Linked DNA regions of Homo sapiens. The protein of the gene in region 4 interacts with the protein of the main gene of each other region in a pairwise test. Each region holds a gene or a part of one and is shown on either strand. Other genes may lie near its edges.

What was found.
Region 1: the proteins of CIRSR (region 4) and MB21D2 interact in binary tests that used the Homo sapiens proteins (3 or more experiments, as listed by UniProt).
Region 2: the proteins of CIRSR (region 4) and DPPA4 interact in binary tests that used the Homo sapiens proteins (3 or more experiments, as listed by UniProt).
Region 3: the proteins of CIRSR (region 4) and splicing factor U2AF 35 kDa subunit-like protein interact in binary tests that used the Homo sapiens proteins (3 or more experiments, as listed by UniProt).

The regions. Positions count from the first base shown.
Region 1 is NC_000003.12:192,796,308-192,802,883, reverse strand, and holds the end of MB21D2 (nucleotidyltransferase MB21D2), read left to right. Parts: intron 1-3,233; coding exon 3,234-4,498; 3' UTR 4,499-6,069; downstream 6,070-6,576. UniProt on the Homo sapiens protein: Probable nucleotidyltransferase that catalyzes the formation of cyclic dinucleotide second messenger in response to some unknown stimulus.
Region 2 is NC_000003.12:109,334,513-109,341,349, reverse strand, and holds the start of DPPA4 (developmental pluripotency-associated protein 4), read left to right. Parts: upstream 1-3,803; 5' UTR 3,804-3,832; coding exon 3,833-3,886; intron 3,887-4,642; exon of another isoform or gene 4,643-5,029; intron 5,030-6,837. UniProt on the Homo sapiens protein: May be involved in the maintenance of active epigenetic status of target genes. May inhibit differentiation of embryonic cells into a primitive ectoderm lineage.
Region 3 is NC_000021.9:6,484,114-6,489,273, forward strand, and holds the end of splicing factor U2AF 35 kDa subunit-like protein, read right to left. Parts: intron 3,300-5,160; coding exon 3,250-3,299; intron 3,093-3,249; coding exon 2,994-3,092; intron 2,343-2,993; coding exon 2,209-2,342; intron 2,118-2,208; coding exon 2,025-2,117; intron 804-2,024; coding exon 656-803; 3' UTR 510-655; downstream 1-509. UniProt on the Homo sapiens protein: Plays a critical role in both constitutive and enhancer-dependent splicing by mediating protein-protein interactions and protein-RNA interactions required for accurate 3'-splice site selection. Recruits U2 snRNP to the branch point.
Region 4 is NC_000002.12:174,392,679-174,399,672, reverse strand, and holds the start of CIRSR (corepressor interacting with RBPJ 1), read left to right. Parts: upstream 1-3,960; 5' UTR 3,961-4,050; coding exon 4,051-4,122; intron 4,123-6,994. Other genes in the region: SCRN3 (secernin-3), read right to left, coding at 1,231-1,398, 3,447-3,497. UniProt on the Homo sapiens protein: May modulate splice site selection during alternative splicing of pre-mRNAs. Regulates transcription and acts as corepressor for RBPJ. Recruits RBPJ to the Sin3-histone deacetylase complex (HDAC). Required for RBPJ-mediated repression of transcription.

The DNA.
Region 1 (6,576 bases), on a different chromosome or scaffold from region 4:
GATCTTATTTACTAACCACAACACAGCATTTCACAGTACTTCTCACGTATATTTATGGTATTCTGAATGGTAGAATGAAAGGATGTTTGAAATAATGAAGAGTAAACGATTTCATTATCAAATATATCTCACTGAAACTGACTGTTCCAACATGTGAGTTCATAAAATAATGAAAATGATTTTCACAACCTAATCTGGAATCTGAGAAATCAATTTTATCCTTTAAAGCAATAACCAAAACGTGGGATGGTAGTATTTCTTTACATGGCAAAGATGAGGTTAATATTAAAACATAATGACATTTGAGAAATGGATCTTTGTCTTGGCATTTATAAGAACTTTCAATCCGGATTAAGTTTGGCTTTAAAAAAGAAAACACTTTAAAAAGGAAAAACATATTTTCCATGCTGAAGACGGTTTTTGTTTGGGTAGTAGGTAGTATCTTCTGTTTTGCTTGGATAGTATTTAGTGTAGTATGTTGGGTTTCTCAGGACGCAGCCTCTGAAATGGAGTTAGGATGTTTATGAAGCAGCACCCTTGGGATCTACACCTGTCGAAGTGGGGAAGGAAGCAGGTTCAAGTAGGAGAAGCTGAGCTTCCCTGCAGGCGCATCATTCGCCACAGCCAACCCCACTGGGAACTCAGAGTTTGAGTGGCCCTTCAGAGTATCCTGAGCTGGGACACTCCCACACCGATCAGTTATTGGATGTGCACCTGCAACCCCCATCCCAGCCACAGGACCTGACCTGGCTAAGACAGCCCTTTGCAGCTGAGACAATCCTTAAGGGCTAGCATTTAAGCAGCTGGAAGTCCTTTATTGAAGAGGGACCTGGATGCCGTATCACAGTGCAGATAGTGTGAGAAACAGCCAAGAAGTCAGGTTTGTTGGATGTTCTTTCTGATGAATTGTTGACACTATAATGTTGGCTAACTTACGGTTTTAAAAAGAAAATGATAACTTGCCATATTTCTGTGTGTAAAGAATTGTACTAAATAAAAGACTTTTTCATGGTTAATGTGGTTTGGAAAATAGGATTTTAAAGAGCATATTTTAATAAATGAGCGTTAAATTTTAAAGTATAATTGTCTTAGTTCATTCAGGCTGTTATGTCAAAGTACCTAAACTGAGTAGCTTATAAACAGCAGGGATTTATTTCTCACCATTCTGGATGTCAAGAAAGCCAAGATCAAGGTGCCTGCAGATTCATTGTCTGGTGAGGGACAGCTTCCTGGTTCATAGATGGCTGTCTTCTCACTGTGTCCTCACATGGCAGAAGGGGTAAAGAAGCGCTCTGAGGTTTCTTTTATAAGGGTACCAATCCCACTCATGAGGGTTCCACTCTCACGCCTGATCACCTACCACAGGCCCCAGCTCCTAATACTATCACATTGAAAGTTGGGATTTCAACATGTGAGTGGGAGTCACGAACGTTCAGAGTATAACAATAATAGTAAGAAAACACAGGCATATGGTTTATTTGATTTGGGATTGTCCTATGAAGAGCAAACTATGAATTATAATGAATAATGGAATATTATAATACTTTGTGGTAGGTCTTGATCTTTGGGGAAACACTGTTAAATAAATCACAGGATGACGCTGGTAGTTTGTCAGAGAATCAAGCGTAAGCAAGTATATAATGAAGGAGGGAAAATGTATATGTTGTTTATGGAACAGTCATTTAAGTCTAGCCTTTAAGAATTTATGTTAATTCCATCTATTAATGCTATCTACCTATTAATTTCATGCATTTTTTCCCTTATCATTTAGTCATAGCTTGAATTATGTTCCTACTGCATGCACGGAGTCTTCTATACCTGCTTAATACATGAGACATGGTTCTCAAAAGGACCCACAATCTCTTAAAAAATCACATTTGTTAATATCATCGCCAATTTAATCAGAAACGTATACAATTCGAGAAGATGTCACGCTCATGGTGCGGAGTTTTCTAAATTTAATTTTCCCTTAGAAATTTCAGCTTTATCATTGGCAATAAATATTGTCAGTAGTTTCCTTGAAGCCAGGCTCATTTTGTTCATTTCTGAAGAAAATGTCTACCAAATACCCAAATCTAAATAGCCATAGTTTTCTGTTGTTCTTTAAAGTAAAAATGGCGTTCCATGAACAAAGAGGCTAGTTCAGCTCACAACTCAGTTACGTGAGTGCTTTTCCTGAAGACAGATTTCCTATTTCAGTATGAGGAAGACGGGTTTTATGGTTATTTCCATTTCATCACACAGACTATTAGGAAGATAGTCTTTCTAATGGCTCAGAGGTTGAGATTCAATAAAATAACTTATTTTTCTTCTCCATCAAGGATTTTCTTAAGTAAAACTGGGTTTTTTAAAAAAAAATTGCTAATGCATGTCAGTGGTAAAGAACCTACTGACTGCTAGTACAGTTTGGCATCAGTGTCTTTGCTGCTAAGGCACTGGCAATATTATCCTCCCTTGTTTCTGTGCCATTAGTACAATGGCAACACAGTAAAAAAGTCAGACAAGACTGGGCGTGGTAGCTCATGCCTGTAATCCCAGCACTTGGGGGAAGCCGAGGTAGGAGAATTGCTTGAGGCCAGGAATTTTAGACCAGCCTGGGCAACATAGCAAGACCCTGTCTCTTAAAAAAAAAGTCAAACAGTGTGTTAGTATTATTATAAAGAGAGTTATGAACTCATTACCCCTGAAAGTGTCTCCAGCCCACACTGAGAACCGCTGGTACAAAGAAGAGTGTAAGCGCAAAGAGCCTGGGGAAAGAAAACCGCTTAGGCAATAGATAAAAAAGGCCGAACTTCATATGATGGCAGGAGAGATGGAGAACAGGGAAGGAAGTGAGAAACCCTGGCAGAGGTTCCATGGAAAAGATTTGGCAGTAGAAGGGCAGCAAAGAGTTGAAATGTACTGAGGTTTTCAGTCTGCATAACTGAGTGGATGGCAATTCCATTAACTGAGATGATGACTGGGGGAAGAGGGGCCCTGTTTTATTATTGAAAACGATACTGCTTTTCACACTGAGAGAGAAAAATCTATCATAATTCTTGCATTTGGAAAAGGGTGGATTCTAGCACTAGTGAGAAAGTACTGTTGGCCAGGTCTCTGCAGCAGCCTGAGATTTGATTTAGTACTGATAATGAGTTTTGGTTCTTGGAACATCAGAGCATTCTGTTTCATGCATAAGACTCTTATGTCTGTGTTTCCTGTAATAGTGTTGTTTTTTTCTTCTTTATTTCCAGGAATGGTGCAAAAGCTGGACCAAAAGCTTCCAGTGGCTAATGAATACCTGTTGCTCTCTGGAGGTGTCCGGGAAGGCGTGGTGGACCTGGACTTAGATGAGCTTAATGTCTATGCCCGGGGTACTGACTATGATATGGACTTTACCCTCTTGGTGCCAGCCCTCAAGCTGCATGACCGTAATCAGCCTGTGACACTCGACATGCGCCACTCAGCCTTGTGCCACTCTTGGCTGAGCCTTCGGCTCTTTGATGAGGGGACAATCAGTAAATGGAAAGACTGCTGCACCATTGTAGATCACATCAATGGTGCCACCAACTACTTCTTCTCACCTACCAAAGTGGCTGACTGGTTCTATGACTCTATCAGCATTGTCCTATCAGAAATACAGAAGAAACCCCAGCGAGGGATGCCAAAGGTAGAAAAGGTGGAAAAAAATGGGACCATCATCTCCATCATTCTGGGTGTAGGGAGTAGTCGCATGTTGTATGATATTGTCCCTGTGGTATCTTTCAAAGGTTGGCCTGCAGTGGCCCAGAGCTGGCTCATGGAGAACCACTTTTGGGATGGGAAGATTACTGAGGAAGAGGTCATCAGTGGGTTTTACTTGGTGCCTGCTTGCTCCTACAAGGGTAAGAAGGACAATGAATGGCGGCTGTCCTTTGCCAGGAGCGAGGTGCAGTTGAAGAAGTGCATCTCCAGCAGCCTCATGCAGGCCTATCAGGCCTGCAAAGCCATCATCATTAAACTGCTGTCCCGGCCCAAGGCTATTAGCCCCTATCACCTGCGGAGCATGATGCTCTGGGCCTGCGACAGACTTCCTGCCAACTACTTGGCTCAAGAAGACTATGCAGCCCACTTTTTGCTGGGCCTCATCGATGACCTGCAACACTGTCTGGTCAACAAGATGTGCCCCAATTATTTCATCCCTCAGTGCAACATGCTGGAACATCTGTCTGAGGAGACAGTCATGCTTCACGCCCGGAAGCTGTCCTCTGTGCGCTCAGACCCGGCAGAGCACTTGCGCACCGCCATTGAGCATGTCAAGGCAGCCAACCGGCTGACACTGGAGCTCCAGAGGCGAGGTAGCACCACCAGCATCCCCTCTCCACAGTCTGACGGAGGGGACCCCAACCAGCCTGATGACCGTTTGGCAAAAAAACTGCAGCAGCTAGTGACTGAGAACCCGGGAAAGTCAATCTCTGTCTTTATCAATCCTGACGATGTCACAAGGCCCCATTTCAGAATTGATGACAAATTTTTCTGAGTGTTAGCTGACTTTTTTTTTTCCTGATTCTTAAACTCTGATAATGTGTCGTGTGGTTTGTGATGCTATCTTTCTGTTTTTTACATATCCAGCCTAGATTGGATTTGTTAAGAACAAATTTTAAGTTTCCTGGTTCTGCAGGATGGTGCAGGCTCTGAAACAGTATATTACTATTTCATATTCTGCCTCTGATTTCGTTGTTTACTTTTTGTAGTTATTGTCATGCTCTTTAGTTTGTTGGAGTTTTTTTTCTTTTTAAGGAGATCTTAAGCCATAGATGAAAATGCCCATGAATCCTCTTGCTTTTTTCTGTTTCATACTTGGTGCAAATTTGTTCATGGGTATGGGGAAACAAATCTCTTTCTGATGCTTAACGATTCTATCCTATTATTTTTATTATTTTGTTTTTGTCTTTTTTCTTATGAGCTTTCACCACTACTGATATTTGAGAATCATATGAACCTGGGAACTACTTGGCATGTTAGCTGGATTTATTTATTTTGGCCAGTGACCAGAGTAGTTTCCCCCCTTTTCCACCAAACAATGTAAACTTTGAAAGTGATAATACTACAAATTGTGTTTTGGAGCAACTTCATTGAATGTAATTGTCCTCAAATCAGAGAACACTGGGTGGTTTGAAGGGTGTCTTTGACAGTTTTCCAAGCAGAATTAAGGTTTCCAAATGTTAATTTTAGCATATGTAATTATTTGAAGCCTTATTTAAATCCTATTAAAGAACATACCATTATAATTATTATTTGCACTAATCTTTGCCATTGTCAGAATTGCAAAGTGTGTTTCAATATAAATTAACAACCACTCTCGAAATTCTATCATTTTTTCATTTTGCCCATTTCTATCAGTGAAATGATTCTTTGCATTTGCTTAGTTCTCCTTCAGTTGTGGGGTCCTGCTTTGCCCTCTTTGATATTCCTGGTTCCTGTCTTACTGAGAGAAGTTGTTAAAGCTTTATACATGTTGACCCCATCTAAAGCTGGGGAAAATATACACTTGATGAAGTAGGTGTCTTTGTATTTATTTCTTTTGGGGTCATAGAGGTAAGCTTTTTTGTAAAATCTCTACTCTTCCTGAGAGTTTTGAGAAAAACTGGCAGGAAGAACTTATAATCCCCAAATAGAAGATACCACGTCTGTTCAAAAGCAGGTATTGCTATAGAGCAGCACCCAGGAAATATCTGTGGGTGGCAGCCTTGGTATAGAGGTGTCCTGTCTTCATGAGTGAAGTTACTTGCCTGATTAGGTGCTGGAAGGTATTGGCTCCCTGTTTTGGTGTGGACTCATGGCAAGCTGGTGTTTAAGAGGTCAGGAGGCCTGCTGATCTTTCAAAGGACACCCATGATGTCTACTCATAGAAAGGGCAAGTAACGTGTTCATTTTGGTCTTGAATGTCCAAACTCAAGGGTTGGATTTTGGCCAATTGAAATCAGACATATGCGATCTTGGGTTTTTGCATGGAAATTAATGTAATGCTTATAAATGAAAAATGAAAACATTTCAACCATCTAAGTCAAACACAAAAATAATAAAAAAAGAAACATACTGGCCTTGAAATTTTGTTGTTGTTTGTAATCTGGGAATTATTTTCTTATTAGTATTATATTAGTATATTTATATATTAGTATATTTTCTTATTAGTATTATACTAACAGCAATTTTCAATAAATACAGCCATGGGCTTGCTAGTGTCTTTCGGACCAGTTGTCCATATAGTGAACAACCAACATTCAGTCTTCCTCTTTCCCCAGTTTTACTACTAATGTCTATCCGCCACATCATCCTTGTCCTTCTCAGGAAATGATTTCATCCCTAGTGCTGAAAACGCGTCATAATTGGAAAAGCTGATCTGCACAAACCATCTCCCTGGCCACAACATTAACAAGCGACACAGAATGTAAGCCGCTCCAGTCAGGGACACGCTCAGCGTTCCAAACTGGAATGCTGGGACAGAAACATACACTCTCCCTGGATATGGAGGAGAAAGCATTTGGATTCTTTTGCTACTGACAACTATCACACGATCTTTATTTATTTGTGTATTTATTTTTAATACACTTTAAG
Region 2 (6,837 bases), on a different chromosome or scaffold from region 4:
ACCATCCTGGCTAACACGGTGAAACCCCGTTTCTACTAAAAAATACAAAAAATTAGCCAGGCGTGGTGGCGGGCGCCTGCAGTCCCAGCTACTAGGGAGGCTGAGGCAGGAGAATGGCGTGAACCCGGGAGGCGGAGCTTGCGGTGAGCCCAGATCGCGTCACTGCACTCCAGCCTGGGCGACAGAGCGACACTCCGTCTCAAAAAAAAAAAAACAAACAAAAAAAGATATGAAGGAGGGCTGGGCATGATGGCTCACGCCTGTAATCCCAGCACTTTGGGAGGCCAAGGCGGGCGGGTCACTTGAGGTCAGGAAATCGAGACCATCCTGGCTAAAGGTGAAACCCCGTCTCTACTAAAAATACAAAAAATTAGGGGGCGTGGTGGCACATGCCTGTAAGCCCAGCTACTCGGGAAGCTGAAGCAGGAGAATCGCTTGAACCCGGGAGGCGGAGGTTGCGGTGAGCCAATATCTCGCCATTGCACTCCAGCCTGGGCAACAAGAGCGAAACTCTGTCTCAAAAAAAAAAATTAAAAAAAAAAAAAAAAAATTAGCCGGGCGTGGTGGCTGGCGCCTGTAATCCCAGCTATTTGGGAAGCTGAGGCACGAGAATCGCTTAAAAACCCAGGAGGCATAGGTTGCAGTGAGCTGAGATTGCGCCACTGCACTCCAGCCTGGACTACAGAGCGAGACTCTGTCTCAAATAAAAAATAAAAATAAGATATGAAGGAAGGGAGGAAATGAGGGAGGGAGGGAAATTGTTTATAAGCAAATAGGTTTGGGTTTTCTTGTTTTTGATGATAACCAGATCTATCATCTACCTCCAACTTTTCCCTTTTTAAACAAAAGTTATTAATTAACCTCATGATCTGCCTTACTCCCTAAATTTAATTTTAACTGACTCACCTTTTCCTACAGTAAAATAACCACTAAAACGGCAATGATTATCCACTATAGGAGATACTACAAGGTAGAATTATTATAAATTAGGTGTGTCAAGTACTAGTGTACTTGTTAAAATACTAGACTCTTGGACATGGGGAAAGAGGTATTTTCATGCACTGTTATAAATTGGGGAACTCTATATAGATATTAAATAAACCCAGCTTTTGACTCAGCGCTTCTGGAATACACAGCAGAGAGACACAGACAAGGGTTCCCTCCCTCCCCCACAGCCACACCTCCTGCCCCCTCTCTCCATTCTGTTAGGAAACAGTGTTACATATGAATCAATGCTGGTTTGTTTTCTGCAGATGCAGATTAATGACTTTGGAAGACTCACTGCCTCCGGGTAAACTAAAGGACTCATTAATTCAGTTCATTTTACACAATTAAAAAACTTTTTATAAAAAAAGAAAGCGAAAAGAAAAAGCTGGGCTTAGGGGTGCTGGCCTTTAGTCCCAGCTACTCGGGAGGCTACAGCTGGAGGATCATGTGAGACCAGGAGTTTCACCTGGGACCAGCCTGGGCAATATAGGGAGACCTCTTAAAAAAAAAAAAAGGAAAAGGAAAAATAAAAGAAAACCCAACCAGAATACCCCTAAATCTCTCAAATTCATTCCTCTCCAACTCTTTTTTTTTTTTTTTTTTTGTCTTTTTCTTGAAACAAGGTCTCACTATGTCACCCAGACTGGAGTACAGCGGCATGATCACACTGCAACCTCCACCTCTTGGACTCAAGCGATCCTCCCACCTCAGCCTCTCGAGTAGCTGGCACCCCTGCGCCACCACGCCTGGTAATTTTTTGTATTTTTGGTAGAAATGGGGTTTCACTATATTGCCCAGGCTGGTCTTGAACTCATGAGCTCAAGCGATTCTCCTGCCTCCCAAAGTGCTGGGATTACTGGCATGAGCCACCACGCCCTGCTCTTCTGATCCCAACATGTGCTGTGCCAGCCACTGTTTTCTCCAGACACTGTTTTCTCCAGACATGCCCACAACCCTCTAAGTAAAGGCTATTATTTTCATGACTCTCATTTCATGGATGAGAAAACAAAGAGACCTAACGTTATTGCCCAGGTCACACAGCTAGTGAAGGGGAGGTTGGGTTTAAATCCTGTCTGGCTAGCTGCTAAAGCCTTACATTTAAAAATGAATCAATCTGGCCTGGATTTGGTGTCTGTGTTTTTATGTTTTATTTTTATTTTATGTTTTATTTTGAGATGGAGTCTCACACTGTCACCCAGGCTGGAGTGCAATGGCACGATCTTGACTCACTGCAACCTCTGCCTCTCCAGCTCAAGCAATTCTCCTGCCTCAACCTCCTTGGTAGCTGGGATTACAGGCACGCACCATGCCCGGCTAATTTTTGCATTTTTAGTAGAGAAGGGGTTCTGCCATTGTTGGCCAGGCTGGTCTCAAAACTCCTGAACTCAAGTGACCTGCCCACCTCAGCCCCCCAAAGTGCTGAGATTACAGGCGTGAGCCACCATGCCCAGCCCAGAACTCCAGTTATTCTGAATGTTACGTTCAATTACACTGACAAAAGAAAGATGATTCAGTTATACACTTTATACACAAACCTTAATTAGAAAGTCCTACTGGTGGTTACCAAAGGCTGTGGTAAAGAATTGTTAAATCAAAGCCCTAATATCTCCCAGATGACCTCAACTCACCTGGTTTCCTCTTTGCCGCCTTGGGGGTTGCCCAGTCCACAACCTGCACTTCCTTCTCTATTCCTGGGCTCCGTTTACTTACTTTTTCTGTCCGTGGATTTCTAGCCTGTGAGCAGATTACTAACACCATTTGGATAAAGACAGTCTCTTATTTATCATTTTAGGACAAGCAATGAGATGTAGGAAAAAAAAACAACAAAGTAAACCAAAGAACAAAAGAGACTTTGGACCCTGACAAGGGAGGGTTTCAGTCGCACAGCCACTGCTTCCTTCACTTCACATCTCTTGACAATCTGACAGGGAGCACTGATCTGAGGAAAGATTTTTCAAATTATTTTAAGGAGAAAAACTTGAACTTCTTTGGGAGTCAGTAGGTTAGGGGTTCACTTACTGTGCTATTGAAAAAGTTACCAATAAAAATTTATACCAACTTTAGTCATATATAAAATGGGGAACAATAATGACTGAATTTAAAACTCACAATTTGAGATATAAAAAAATACTCGGGCGGGGAGTGGTGGCTCACGCCTGTAATCCCAACACTTTGGGAGGACAAGGCTGGAGAATTACTTGAGGGCAGGAGTTCGAGACCAGCCAGGTCAAAATAGCCAGACCCCCCCACTTGCCCTCTACAAAATAAATAACAAATACTCTATAGACTTTAAAAGCTACTATTATTAGTTCGTTGGCAGATGAAAAGATGCTCGGTATTAGTACAGAGAAACCTGGAGTTTTAGTTGGTTGAGTAACTTACTTAGGAAATGGAATGTATTTGGTACGAGAAAATAGCTTTCTTCAAGCCGCCAGTCTGGTCTCTGAAGTCTACTGTTGCCACAAGTTCCATTATTAAATCCCTTCACACATCCTGCTCAAGTCTCTGGCCACTGTTTTTTTGTTTTTTGTTTTTTGTTTTTTTTCCCCGTAGAATCGTTCTGAAGGAGTGCTCAATCTCCCAATGTCTCCGGAACCATACTTTGGATAATTACATTTAAAGTGAACAGAAAAGGGCCAGGAATAGTATTAGTAATTCAACCCAGACAAAAGTCACCCCATGAATAAGAAAGAATGCAATTTTAGCATTTACAAATTGTGGGGGAGGGAACAGAAGGGGAGAAGAAAAGAAGAGGTGAGGTGGAGAGAAAAAGGGTCTTCGGGCGGCAGGAAGTGGGAGGAGACTTTGCAAATAGCAATCTTGGGGCAGGGGCCATTTTGGAAGCATGTTGCGAGGCTCCGCTTCTTCTACAAGTATGGAGAAGGCAAAAGGCAAGGAGGTCAGTACAGTTTTAGTGGATTTGTTTTCTGTCTGTCTTTGTGTTTCTGTCTTCCCTGGGCACTCCTGATTTTTCCTTTAAGGAGAAAAGAATGTGCCTTCGAATTTTCTCCTCTTGACTTTTTTTTTTTTTATTTTAAGAGTAAGGCCCAAGAATATGATTGCAGCCTGGTATATTGGAGTGAGCAGACAAGTAAGAAATGAGGTTTTCTAGGTTTAGTTGAGGAGGTTGAGTGTGTCAAAAGATGGGGAAAAAAAAAAAAGAGGCCGGGCGCGGTGGCTCACGCCTGTAATCCCAGCACTTTGGGCAGCCGAGGCGGGCGGATCACCTGAGGTCGGGAGTTCGAGACCAGCCTGACCAAAATGGAGAAACCCCGTCTCTACTAAAAGTACAAAATTAGCCAGGTGTGGTGGCGCACACCTGTAATCCCAGCTACTCGGGAGGCTGAGGCAGGAGAATCGCTTGAACCCGGGAGTCGGGGGTTGCGGTGAGCCGAGATCGCCCCATTGCACCCCCAGCTTGGGCAACCAGAGCGAAACTCCACCTCAAAAGAAAAAGTTAAAAAATTAGGTTTTCAGGTTTGTGTTTTGGAACAGGGTTTCACTTTTGTCTCCCTGGCTGGAGTGCAGTGGCACCATCACTATTCACTGTAACCGCCCAGGCTCAAACGATCCTCCCACCTCGGCTTACCAAAGTGCTACTGGGACTGCAGGCGCCCGCCGCTGCTCCCGGCCCGGGTTTTCTGTTTTGAAGAGGTGCTTAGTCCTGTCAGAAAGAACTAACTGAATATGGGGGCTAGAGGGAAATGGTAACAGGAGAAAAGGGTGTTAAAGGAAAGATTTTAGGAAGAGGTAATTGAGCTGAGTTTGGAAAAGAATGAAACCCCTTAATTTCCTTTAGACGGACACAGATCCTAAACCGAGGGTGCTGAGAATGAATTCGTCCCCTTTTCCCAGCGTCCTTAGGACCTAGGAGTAATCAGAAGCCAGACATTGGGAACAATGCAGACAGAAACTGAAGGAAGAGAGGATTTAAGACGTTGCACAGGCACTGAACGGCCATATCCGAGCGCTCTCAGGTCCTCTTGACTTGAACTGGGTCATTTTTAACTGTCTCGGTTTTAAGTCTTTTGTGAGGTCCAAAGTGAGTACTTTTTGTAAGGTTTATGCAAATATAAATTTCAAATCAAAATGTAGAACTGCTATAGAGATGTAAAAATGCCATACAAATGTTAATTTGTCCAGTAATCCACCCTGAAAGTGAAGAAAAGGATTTAGATTTAGGAGAAATTTTATTATATTAATTTTTTTTTTTTAATGAGTTTGACTCTGTCGCCCAGAGTGGTGTGCAGTAGCCGATCTCGGCTCACTGCAGCCTCTGCTTCCCGGGTTCAAGCGATTCTCCTGACTCAGCCTCTCGATTAGCTGGGATTGCAGGCACGCACCACCACGCCCAGGTAGTTTTTGTATTTTTGGTAGTGACTGAGTTTCGATATGTTAGCCAGGCTGGTCTCGAACTCCTGACCTCAATCGGTCAGCCCACCTCGGCCTCCCAAAGTGCCGGGATTACAGGCGTGAGCCACGGAGCCTAGCCTTTATATTTAAATTTTAATTTATATCTAATGTACCCCTAATCTGTGTCTTTATGTTACCTCTGATTCTCAGCTTCTGTGTCTGAGAAGTAATTGTTGCCAGATTGCTATGAGAATTAAATGAATGAAAAAAGGAAGGCCAAGGCCAGGCACAGTGGCACACGCCTGTAATCCCAGCACTTTGGGAGGCTGAGGTGGGCGGATCACTTGAGGCCAGGAGTTTGAGACCAGCCTGGCCAACATGGTGAAACCCCCATCTCTACTAAAAATAGAAAAATTCAGCCGGGTGTGGTGGCAGGCGCCTGTAATTCCAGCTAGTGGGGAGGCTGAGGCAGAGAATTGCTTAAACCGGGGAGATGGAAGTTGCAGTGAGCCGAGATTGGACCACTGCACTACAGCCGGGGTGACAGAGCGAGACTCCTCTCAGAGAAAAAGAAAATAGGGAACCCTTGGGCGCAGTGGCTCGCGCCTTTAATCCCAACTCTTTGGGGAGCCAAGGCGGGAAGATTGCTTGAGGCTAGAAGATTGAGATCAGTGGGGGGAGACATAGGGAGACCTCACCTCTACAAAAAATTATCCTGTAGTCCCACCTGCTCAGGAGGCTGAGGCAAAAGATCACTTGAACCCGGGAGGTAGAGCTTGGAGTGAGCTATGGTCCTGTCACTGCACTCCAGCCTGTGTGACAGGGCAAGACCTTTTCTTTAATAAATAAATATTTTTTAAAAAAATGAAAGTGAGGAGCATATCAAAGCCAATGCCTAGTATGAGACAGAGGCTCAATATATGTTACTGTCTCTGGATTAAACAACTTTTCCCCACTCCCACTTTGCTTCCTTTAATTCAATGAACCAATATTTATTGAGTGCCTATGATGAAAAAGAAATCACACAAACCAATGTAATTGCAATTAACAAGTGGTAGAAATGAGGTAGTATTTAGTAGATTGGTCTGGAAGGACCAGGTTAAATAGCACTTGAGGTGAGACTTTTAAAAGAAGAGTAAGATTTTTAAGGTGTAAGATTTTAAAGTGTAAATAGAAGTAGGGTGGAGGTTGGGGCTGAGGAATGTAACAACTTTGGAAAGGAAAGGAATTATGTGGCTGGAGCTTGGTCAGGGAGAGCAGTGTGAAATAGGAGATAAGAGGCTGGTAGGTAATGTTAAAGACAATTACTTTTATGTTAAGAGCAATAAACCACTGAAACTTTTCATAGTGTCACTCTGCCAACAGTGTTAGAAAATTATTTGGAAGGCGTCAAGAATGAAGGACTGGGGGAAAAAATTCTGCCAGGTGAGAGATGATGGAATATAGTAAGTGAGTTAAGGGCCTCTTTTTTTTTTTTGAGACAGTCTCATTCTGTCA
Region 3 (5,160 bases), on a different chromosome or scaffold from region 4:
GTCTAAAGGCGGATCTGCACCGCAGGCTTCTGTGTCTCCCACAGCCATTGGCATAAGGAAACACGGACACGGACTACTGGCCCTCAGTGTGCCGTGTGAGCATCCACGCTCCCTCCCACGAACACATGGGGTTCTTGACACAAACTCGCAGGAACGAGAAGGTAACATGGGTCGGGCCCACCCACTGTGTCTCACCACAGATCAGCCTTCTTCCCAACATCAGTGCAGTCTACAGCGTGTCTACTGATTATAGCTAAGCACTTCTTCACTAACCAGTTAGAAAAGAAACCCCAAAAGGCTTTCCATGACAGCCTCGAGAAATTCCGGATTATTTAGCATGTAGATCTCACCTGGTATGTGTTTTATTTCATGCCCTAAGATAAAAAATATTATTTCATTTATACTCAAAGTGGTGGATGGATATTAATCTTTACCTCCAAGATGACTAGCAGATTTATAAAGAAAAAGAAATTTAAAGAACTTCCACAAGAAATAAGTTACACCAAGAATACTGTTATCACTACAAATTTTATTCAGAAACCCATCTTTGTATGTTTTTTTTTTTGTTGTTTTTTAAAAAAAATTCCCCTTATGAACTGGTTTGGTCAATCAACTACAACACTTTCTAGCAGACATAAGGTAAAAATGGCATGGCTCAGAATCGCCCAGATCTTTCACGATCTCTCGACCGCCTCCTGTCACGCTCCCGTCCGCCGCCACCTCCACCACCGCCACCGCCACCGCCACGACCACGGTCTCTAGACCGAGAACGACGCTCCCGGGATCGGGATCTTGATCTATGCCTGCAACCAAGGAAAATAAAGAAAACCGTGCCATCCAAACCACGGCACGCAGCACAGAACCACACCCACTCTCTCAACACGCGCAGCTCCTCAAGCCAACGGCACTGATAAGGAAAAACACTGCTGAAGAGACTGCACGCCGTGACTGAGACACACCCTGATTTCAGGTGTGAAAAGTTTCAGGAGAAAAAAATGTGCAACTTAGAAGTGAACAGGTGTAATACCTTGCATCTTCTGTCTTCTTCTAGAACCAACTCAAATGGTCACAGGAAATCATAATCAAAATGAGCTGGACACATACCATCTTCAACCCTCACTGACCCCACGCTTCAGGCGCTCATAGCTACTGTGTCCATCAGGTTTTTGGGCTGGGGAGAGCAGGCCTGTTTTTCTCTTATGCTTCTTGAATGCTGACAATAAAACAATCGCCACCCATCTATTTACTAGTCCATGTTTAACAGAAGAGGGATGAGAACCTCTCCAGACTCAGAACTCAATCGGTTCGATTCTGACGTCTTGATTTTCTCTGCTCTGTGACCTGTCGTACATTTAAATGTAGGATCAGAGAGATGTGACCGCTGGGCCTGATTCTGCCAGTGTCCCGAAGGGAGGATGCCAGCGATCCCAAGACATAATGAAATGCCCTAAAACCAACAAGCAAAACCAAAAGAAACCCCAGTGGACATGTGAAATATGTAAAGCAAAAGCTTGTCCAACCTGCAGCCCAACACAAATTCATCAACTTGCTTAAAACATTATGAGATTTTTTTTGCAATTAAAAAAAAAGTTATCAGCTATCATTAGTGTATTTTATTTGTGACCCAAGACAATTCTTCTTCCAATGTGTCCCAGGGAAGCCATCCCTGATCTAAAGGAGGTTACAACATCTATTCTTCTTCTTCGTAATATCTGGGAGAATAAACTGCATGCCCACTTTCACCACGAGCCTCATGTCCGCGGCTGCCCAGCTAACCGCCCTCTTGCTTGATTACTAAGATCTGATCTCTACTTGAGAAGTTGGATAATGAAGTTACCTGTGTGCAGGTGAATATTCTTCTCCAAAGAGGACATTTGGATATTTAAAAATATGTACTATGTTCTAAGCACTGCCTTTTAAAAAACAGAAACAACACCTATGCCAAAATTTTTTTTTTGGAAGGGGGAGGGTTGTGAGGGGAGAAAGAAGCCACTGAGCTTAACAACGGGCACAGGAATACTCACTTCTTGCGACGGCGGCCATACAGCTCCCGCCGCAGCTCTCTGGAAATGGGCTTCAAATGCATGAAGTTGCAGAAGCCGCCTCGTGTGCATTCTCTGTGGGTGGGTTGGAAGGAGACATTTACTACCTCGTGTGCACACGGCCCCGAACTGTGCTCAGTCACGTCACTGGCCACTCCTCACTCACCCCATCTCATACTGACGGCAGCAGGCTTCTCTGAAGTCCGTCACGGGTGACAGCTCGGCGTGGATCGGCTGTCCATTAAACCAACGGTTATTCAAGTCAATCACAGCCTTTTCCGCATCTTCCTCACGGCGAAACTGAAAAGACAAAAACAGAAGTGCTTGCCATCCACGCTTTAATAAGACTTTCTCAATTACCAATCCAAGTATGTATCAGAGAGAGATATACACACTCAGGTATAGTAAGGTGGAATAGTATTACAGGATAATTGAAAAATCCTTTATTTTCAATGAGATTAACTTCAAGATAGTCCAAGATTTTGCCAAATGTTGCCTTCATTTTTCAAATTCAACTGGTTAAAGGAGCAAATATGGCTGTGTAGGCAAATAAAGTTTTATTCACTAAAAAAGAAAAAAGAAACCAAACATGTGAGTAAACCTAACTTTTCCTTAGTCCACACAGCTTCTAAACCAACAGGTACTAAATATTCTACACTGAAATAACGATGGCTGTGGTGTACGGTCCGTCCTTCAGTTCTGCTGGCTGGGCGCACGTGTGGGCTGGCCACCGCCACATATGACGCAGCCGGTAGGCGCCGAGCCAGTGCACCTGAGCCCTGCTGTGCGCCTGAGCATCCAGGATCTCAAGGTGCATGGCGACAGGCACCCCATCCTCTGTCGGCCTTGGCCCCGGCACACTAAGCGGCTGCACCACTGTCTCGCTTTCGCCTGTTGGCCTTGGCCCCGGCACACTAAGCGGCCACGCCGCCGTCTCGCCCTGGCTCCTACCTTGACGTACACGTTCCCCACCAGGTGGTCTCCCAGGTTGTCACAGACGTTCATCTCCTCTACTTCCCCATACTTCTCCTCCATTTCTGTAAAAACCTCCTGAAGGGAGACCACAGTGGTTTAAGACTCGTTATACACTACAAAGTGTCATTAGATATAACTCATGTATGTTTATTAGCAGAGAAACATTTTAAATCCTTCCAAACAGATACAGAAGATCAACAGGTCTATCAGTCACAGAGTTCAGTTCTCTCACCTCAAAAAACTCATCATAGTGTTCCTGCATCTCCACATCGCTCACGGCACCTGCAAACAACAGAAATCTTGCTGGTTAGAACATGTTAACCGAGTGAACTCTTGTGTTTAAACTCAAACTGCTACAGTAACACACACGAGATTATCTAGAGAAAAGCCTGGCAGAGCTGCACTCTGCAGGAGCACTCAGGAGACTGAGCCACATGGCTACTTGTGAATGGTGTCAAGTGTGGTGAGATTTTAAATGTCCCCATGACAGTCTCGATTCTGGCTACTAAGGTGTTAAAATCACAACCAGCTTTAATCAGCATCAAAAGGGCCACATTTTCAGAAACTGTGAGGAAAAAGTTGACTCTCAAACTACAAATTTTTTTTTTACACCCACAAGATGCAGTCTGGCTCTGTCGCCCAGGCTGGAGTGCAGTGGCACCATCTCAGCTCACTGCAACCTCCACCTCTGGGGTTCAAGCGATTCTCCTGTCTCAGCCTCTGGAGTTGCTGGGACTACAGGCGACTGCCACCACGCCCGGCTAATTTTTTTTTTTTTTTTTAATTTTTAGTACAGACAGGGTTTCACCACGTTGGCAGGCTGGTCTTGAACTCCTGACCTCAAGTGATCCGCCTGCCTTGGCCTCCCAAAGTGCTGTGATTACAGGCGTGAGACACCGCACCTGGGCTCAAACTAAGAAATATTAAAATTTTCTTCCTTTTAAGATTTAGAGTAAAGGCCAAATAAGCACACTGATGTCTTCCCCTCTTCTATAAGTTTAAAATGAAACCTGAAAGCAGGGTCGATGATTAAAAGCTGATGTTCCTAACTAGTCTTTTATGGACTGCCAGCCATGGTATGCTCTCAAATTCTTCTGATGTGATTAAAATCCAAGCAACCATGAAGATTCAGTAGGACAGTTCACGCAACCTTACGGTATTGTGGACGCCCTCAAGTAAAGGGAATGTTACAATGTTTTGCTGATGAAAGCATTCTTTTTTTTTTCTTTTTTTTGAGACGGAGTCTCACTCTGTCGCCCAGGCTGGAGTGCGGTGGCGCAATCTCGGCTCACTGCAACCTCCGCTTCCTGGGCTCATGCGATTCTCTGCCTCAGCCTCCTGAGTAGCTGGGATTACAGGCGCCCACAACCACGCCCGGCTAATTTTTGTATTTTTAATAGAGATGGGGTTTCACCATCTTGGCCAGGCTAGTCTTGAACTCCTGACCTCGTGATCCACCTGCCTCGGCCTCCCAAAGTGCTGGGATTACAGGTGTGAGCCACCGTGCCCGGCGCAAGTATTCTTAAGTTTTATATTCCCAAACTATTTTCATCAGTTTATTCTTCATAATTCACATGTATTAGGTAAAATCATGTCTGTTGCGTGGGTAAATTTGGCAAATTTACACTCTATCCCCATCATCATTCTATCAAATTTAATTAATTTTTTTTTCTTTTGAGATGGAGTCTCTGTCCACTCCAGGCTGGAGTGCAGTGGCGTGATCTTGGCTCACTGCAACCTCCACTTCCTAGGTTCAAGCAATTCTCCTTCCTCAGCCTCCCAAGTAGGTGGGACTACAGGCGCGCACCACCATGCCTGGCTAATTTTTGTATTTTTAGTAGAGACGGGGTTTCACCATGTTGGCCAGGCTGGTCTCAACCTCCTGACCTCACGTGATCTGCTTACCTCAGCCTCCCAAAGTGCTGAGATTACAGGCATGAGCCACTGCCCCCGGCCCACTCTATCAAATTCTAGAGTTCTCTAAACCTGAGAAATCACAGAGCTGGTGTATCAACAAACATGTTCCAATCAGCTAGATTAGGGGCTGGCAAAAGCCTGACTGGTTTCCAGATTGGGCCGGCTGCCTTAGCCTGTGCACCCAACGTGGGCATCTGACTGCTGGCACACGGGTCTTTGAGCTTGC
Region 4 (6,994 bases):
GTTAGTTACAAAGATGAATCAGATAAAGATCTCACTTTTGAGAAACTAAAACTTCTACATTAAGATAAAATAAAGTATAAAGTATTAGGGTCATGAAGTGAAGACAAGGTGCTATTGGAGCTCAGGAGAAAGATGGTCTCTAGCTGTAATATCTTGAAACATTTTTGTAGATGTGTGAGTTGAAGCTTAAGGAAGTAGTTCTCAACCTCAATATCCAGTGTTTCTTGATTAGTGATATAATTACTCACATGGTAGCCTTCGAATACAAGAGTTTTGTCATAGGAATCTCACATCACATTTTGAAGTCAACCATTAGGTATGCCCACAGCAATGAAAAGAATGAGAACCACTGGTTTACAGGACAGGCTATATTTAAATATGAAGAAATAAAGTGGAAGTGGTATCACAGATGAATAAGTGGTCTTAGCAAAAGAAAAAAATATGGCATAGGATACAGAAAAAAGTCTAATATTTAATATGTTTTAATATTAGAATATCAATAAAATAAAATCTAAAAAGTATGAATTAGCAACAATAGCATAATTTGAAGCTCTCATTTTAAGTTCCACATTAAATGGGTTTTTAAAATAAGTTTTTAAAGGATCCTTTAATTAATGTGTATACTACCAAGTGACTGCATAAAATGTATATTGATAGTGTTAACATAGGGCCTAATAAACCTTTTTTGATGTGTCATAAAACTGTCATTCCTAAAGTCTGGGATGACTTTCCTATTCTACATCAAGTAGAACCTAAGCCAATTCAGAATCAGAATCCTTTTTGTCCATCAAATTCCAGCTAACTCCAAGCTGAATTAAATGTTCATTCTCTTCCGCTGCCACAGCATGCTACTGTTACTTAAATTTAGCATTTAAACCATCCTATTTTATAATGGGGTATAATGCATACACATCTTATTGCTATACTAGACTCTAAGCTCCTGGAACAGAGTCTTGACAGCTGACTTTAAATCTCTTGCCCTATCTAACATGCTTGCATATGGAAAGCATTCAAATATTTATTCAAACAATGGATAATTTTATTATTGTTATTTCAACGTCCTCCGAATCACTGAAATAAAAGATCACAGTTTATTTCTGACTCATTTATTTTTCAAATGTAAACTCCTCAATTTTAACTTCTACAGTTTCTTCCAAATTGCTATGTATAGAAATAACTTTATGATATTTTTAAAAGGCATATTGCTAACAAAACATTTATTTCACCTACCTTAAGACGTTCTCCCAGGTTATCATGAACTACAGCAGGAAAATAAACCACCTCTTGTACTTCATCATAGAGTCTATCTGAATTTTTTCCAAAAATAATCCTGTTATCGACTGTTGCTGGAGGTAATGCCACGAAAGTGTCACAGGAAAAAGGTTCCATTTTTTTTAACTAAAAATTATACAGATGTTTTAAAATAAAAAGAACACTTTTAAGTATATAAAAATAAAGAGTTTTACTCAATGACCAAAGGATATTATTGCCATATCTAATTAAGGATGTTCATTAAAGCTTTGATTTTTTTATTTTTATTTTTTGGAGACAAGGTCTAGCTCTTTCACCCAGGCTGGAGTGCAGTTGTATGATCAGGGCTTACTGCAGCCTGGAACTCCTGGGCTCAGGAGATCCTCCCCCTTCTGCCTCCCAAAGCCCTGGGATTACAGGCATGAGTGACCGTGCTTGGCTGTTCATTAAAGTTTTAAATTTTGTATACTACAGCCTAAAAATCAGTAAGAATATGACTTGGGACTCAATCTGGTACTACAACTCAGTAAGAAAATGGCAATGAGAACTACCTTCTTCTACTGTATAGTTCACATTTATTCTCTAAGACCTTTCTCTCCTAAAGTCTTCCCTGAATTTCGTTTCACCATTTCCATATTTGGGAATCCGTGTACCTAGCTCTATTGTTGTAAAGGCTAGATTCCATTACATTCGTGTATATATAAATCCCTTTACTGGACAATGAGATCCTTGAGGGCTGGGAGTATGTCTTACTAATCTTTATATTCTCTTTGCTGGAACTTGTCTTATGGAAAAAAATCTTACGTGCCCAGTACTTCCTCAAAGGAAGGAAGAAGGGGTCTTATTTGAGCTGGGAAATAATACACATTATAATTCTGATGAGACTGAAATTTTGAAACAGACTCATTGATTCAGACAAAAATATGTCAATATAATTCCAAATTGCTGATATTTCTAGGAGAAAGTTCACATATTTAATTTATAAATCGCAATTATATACTTTAATATCTAGATTACCTCTTCAGTTGTAACTTGGAAAATCTTAGATCTTCACTTATAATAGAACACCTAAAGGTCCTTATTTTGCTGCCAGAACAGACACATTGTTTTACAGAGTTTCCTTCTTTCCTTTAATAATGGCAAAACCTTAAAATGGCTTTACACAGGCAGATGCTAGCAACTTAAAAACAAAATTTAAATATAATAAATGTTTCCTTAAAAAGAAAAGAAAATGACTAAATAAAAACTTCAGACTGAAACTCTTAAGGGTTTTCCTCTTCTCCTCAGTGACGAGAAGTCTGATGTCTTGATGGCTTCTGTTATTTTCTTTCTGTATTTCAACTCTTATGTCCTGGATCTCCTTCTATTTGTGTTTTATAGTTAGTTCTATCACTATATAACTTTGGCAGACTATTTAATCTCTCTCTTACCTATGCCTTCTGCCTCATCAGAAAAATAAGACACTATTTGATGGGCTGTTATGAGAACTTAATAAGGCAACACGTAAAGTGTTTTGCACAGTGCATAGAACATAGTAGATACTCACATGAAAGCTGTTATTGTTATTATTTGGTAGGAGAGAAAATTTCTCATAAAGGCTTATTCGTTTTTTGTTTTTTTTTTTTGATGGAGTTTAACTCTTGTTGCCCGGGCTGGAGTGCAATGGAGCAGTCTTGGCTCACTGCAACCTCCGCCTCCCGCGTTCAAGTGATTCTCCTGCCTCAACCTCCCGAGTAGCTGGGATTACAGGCGCGTGCCACCACACCCGGCTAATTTTTCGTGTTTTTAGTAGAGACGGGGTTTCACCATGTTGGCCAGGCTGGTCTTGAACTCCTGACCTCAGGTGATCCACCCACCTTGGCCTCCCAAAGTGCTGGGATTACAGGCGTGAGCTACCGCGCCCGGCCAAGGTTTATTCTTAACATTACCCTGATAGAGAACTTGGTTGGTGGATCACCTGCTGCAGTAGCAGCCACGTCCACTCAAAAACCTGGAGTCCCAAGGGCCATCAAGCTGCAATAGTAACCTGAGCTGCCTAACTGGGGTCGTAGGGAAAGCTAAGGAAACTTGCCCCCTGGTTAGAATTGCACCTAGCCCACTGAGGAGGTGAAGCCTTGAGAGATTTTACCAACTCCTAACGCGTATTCGTCATTCAATAAGTATTTATTGAACGTCTTTCGGCGCCAGTACCGTACAGCTGGGTACAAAATAGACAGGGCCTCCGTTCTTGCAGAGCTGTCTGTCATTCTATTTCACGCGCTCTTAGTTCAGCCGGCGCTTTCAGAAACATCATATTGTTGGATTCTCGCAAGCATACTACGGTTAGGGCCGGAATTATTATCTTCATAACATAGATGAGAAAAACAGTGCAGAAAAGCTTTTGCAGCTCGAGTCAGAGTCCACAGAAAGTAATGGGCTCGAGCTTCAAGCACCTTTGGTCGAAGGGCCGCCGCGGTCCACCCCGCACCCCGGCCCTGGGCGCTCAAACCGCAGCCGGTGCAGCTGGGCTCCGGAGCCCCTCGGTCAAGCAGTGCCGCGCCACAGTTGGGTCTTCCGGGTTTCTGTCTCAACTATGCACGCCCCTCCCCCGTGCGCGCCCCTCACCTGGCCTCCCAGCTACCCGAAGTGACAGGTGGACGGAGGGAGGAGTGGCCAGTGGAGGCATCAGTTGCCGGAAGCTGTCACCTTTGATCTCGGAAGTTCCCCCTTGCTGCTGGAAACGCAGTTCCGGTTAGGCGGCTGAGTTTGTTTACGTTGCTAACAGATCTAGCCCCTGCTTTCCCTAGTTCCAGTTCCAAGATGGGGAAATCCTTCGCCAACTTCATGTGCAAGAAAGACTTTCATCCTGCCTCCAAATCCAATATCAAAAAAGTGAGTAAACAGACCCGGGGAGGGATTAGGCCCACAGGGACCGCCTTCCCAGAGGCTGCTGGAAGTGAAAGTGATGGTGTCTCTGAGATCCCTAGGACAGCCTCCGCTTCTCTAGGCCTAAAGCCCTGGTGGTCTCGCCTTTCTCTGCTGAGCAGCTCGCTGACGCAGCGGGTCCTCAGCGTTTATTCTGCAACAGCGAGGAGACCGGTGGCCTAGAGAATCTTTGTCGGCCAGAATGCAAATCCATAATATGCGAAGACTAATGTCAAAATTCCTCAGTACTTCCTTCAGCTGATTCTGGTTTTTTGTCTTTTCGGATCCCAGGGATCACGGCTTCTGAACTCTACTTTTCTGTACAAAGAAGCCTCCCCGTTTACTTAAGATAGATCTTTAAAAAAATTACCTAATAATCTAGTGTCTTTTTGATGACTAAACTCGTTGAAGTTTAGTGTTTTACATAATTACAGGTCTACCAGTTGTAATACTTTGGTGAATATCATAGTAATGAAAAGCAAAAGAGTGAAGTAGAAAGAATCAGCTTTGGAGTCAAACCTGGATTCTAGTTATTCGAGCAGTCACTTTTAGCCTTAAGACCTTGCACAAAATATTTGTAATATCTGACCCTCAGTCTTCTAATCTGTAAATTAAGGATGATTGACTTAATTGTGAGGATTAAGTGAAATAGTGAAGATAAAGGATTTGAAACAACGTAGGCATCTATCACTGTGTCCACTACAGAGAGGAGGTGCTCAATAAAATGTTGATTGCCCCTACATAGAAACTTGTGAAAATAACTAAGCTTTTATTTGTTTTTAGAACGAGTTGAGGTGATGAGATACTGCTATATACTCTCACTTCTAGACCAGTGATTCTCAACTTTTTTTTCACTGTTACCTTCCTAAGGAGTCTTATTAAACATTTTTTCTTAATAACTCCCCCATGAAATTTTAATAACACAGATACACCTTGAAAGCTCTTTGGTAATCATCCAGCCCCATCTCCTCATTTTATAAATGAGGAAACAAATTTGCCAAGAGTTACACAGCTAGTTAAATGTTGTACCAGAACTAGGATCTGGAACACCTGATTAACCCAGTGATTTTTTTTCCACTGCACCAGTTTGTGTTTGTGTGGTTGCAACTGTGGGAGGGAGAGGTTTCTTGTATTTGGTTGGCTCAATAACTTTTGACACCAAACACAGACATTTCCTTTCTCTGCATACTTAGGGGGTCAGCTGTTACTATTTTTACAAGAATGAAGAGATTAGATGGAATTCAGGTGCTTGCTTATTTGCTGTTTATATTTAGAGACAAATATACCTGAGAAATCATAATTTTTTACTGGAACTTTTGACATTTCGCTTTATAAATTTCAATGTATCAGCTTTCTTACAAGAAAAAAGAAATCCACAGAGAATAACTTTTGCAAGTCCGCTATGAGAAATTCAGTAAAGCAGTTATAGGCTTAGAACCTACATTCTTCTCATCTGTGTAAAGTGTTATGTAAAATGTACCAAATATTGTTGGCCTCTTTGATCTGTTTTATACTTTTCCCAGGATAGAGGAGAAGAATGAAATGTTTTTGATTAGCAGACCTTTCTAGATAGTTAACACTTTATGGGGAGAGGGGGTGACCTCTAGCATTCTTTATTAACTAAGGATAAAGGAACTATATTAAATGAAGATAAATAGAAAAATTTATTAGGGTAGGAGGAAACTTTTGGAGGTGATGGATATGTTTATAGTGTAGATTGTGATGATGGTTTCACAGGGATATACTTGTCACCAAACTCAGGTTGTATACATTAAATATGTACAGCTTTTTATATGTCATACTCCAGTAAAGTTTTTTTTTTTTTTTAATAGAAGTGGAAGAAACAAAGGAGTTTGATCAAAGAGTGCAAAAGAGTTCCACCATGAAAATTTTAAGGGCCAGGTATGGTGGCTCATACCTATAATTCCAGCACTTTGAGAGGCCAGGAATTCAAGACCAGCATAGGCAACAAAGTGAGACCCCATCTATATTTAAAAAGAAAGAAAGAAAATTCTAATTGTAAAATTAGGCATGTTGGGTTTATTAAAGTCCAGTAGGTTCTTTTTTTCCTTGTTTGTTTTCAGTTTCCCAAGCTTATAAAAAGTCCAGTAGGTTTTAAGGTCTCATTTGTTCACCAAAAATAAGAGTGAATGCTGTATATCTGCTGGTCACTCTGTTGTGTATTGTTATGCGCTGCCTCAATCATTTATGTCACAGGATACACTGTTTTGTTCAGCTGTTCTTTTTTTTTCTTGATTTTGTTAATGAAGGAAGCAGTTAATTTACATTGTGGTCCAAGCTCTTTAGTCTTCTTGTGGACTGGCAAACAGTTCATAAACTGGCTATTGACAATTGCATCACTGTAAACTCCCTTTTTTGTGAAACTCTCTGTTCCCTTAGCTGTAATAACTACTCTCTTCTAGTTTTCCAGCTCTCTTATTAGACTGTTCTTTTCCCATCAACTTCACTGGATCTTTATTCTTAGCCTGCTCCTAAAATATAAGTGTTCCCCAGAGTTTCATCCTTGGCCCACTTCTTGCTTACTTAGTATGCTTGCCCCAAGCAATCACATCCAACTAGCCTGTTTTAACTAGCCTGTTTACTCATGACTCAAATCTGCAGTCCCAGTTTTCTCTTCTTAACTTTGATGTGGCTCAAGACAGCTATCTACTAGACATTTGCATCTTGATGTCCTATAGGCACCTCAAACTCAACATATCTGATATAAAAGTTTTTTACCCCAAATCAGCCCTTTTTATACTTGCTATCTCATATGGGTAGAAATATAGATAGTAAAACAGTCCCTCATCCTGTTGCCCAAACCAGAAGCTCAGGATTC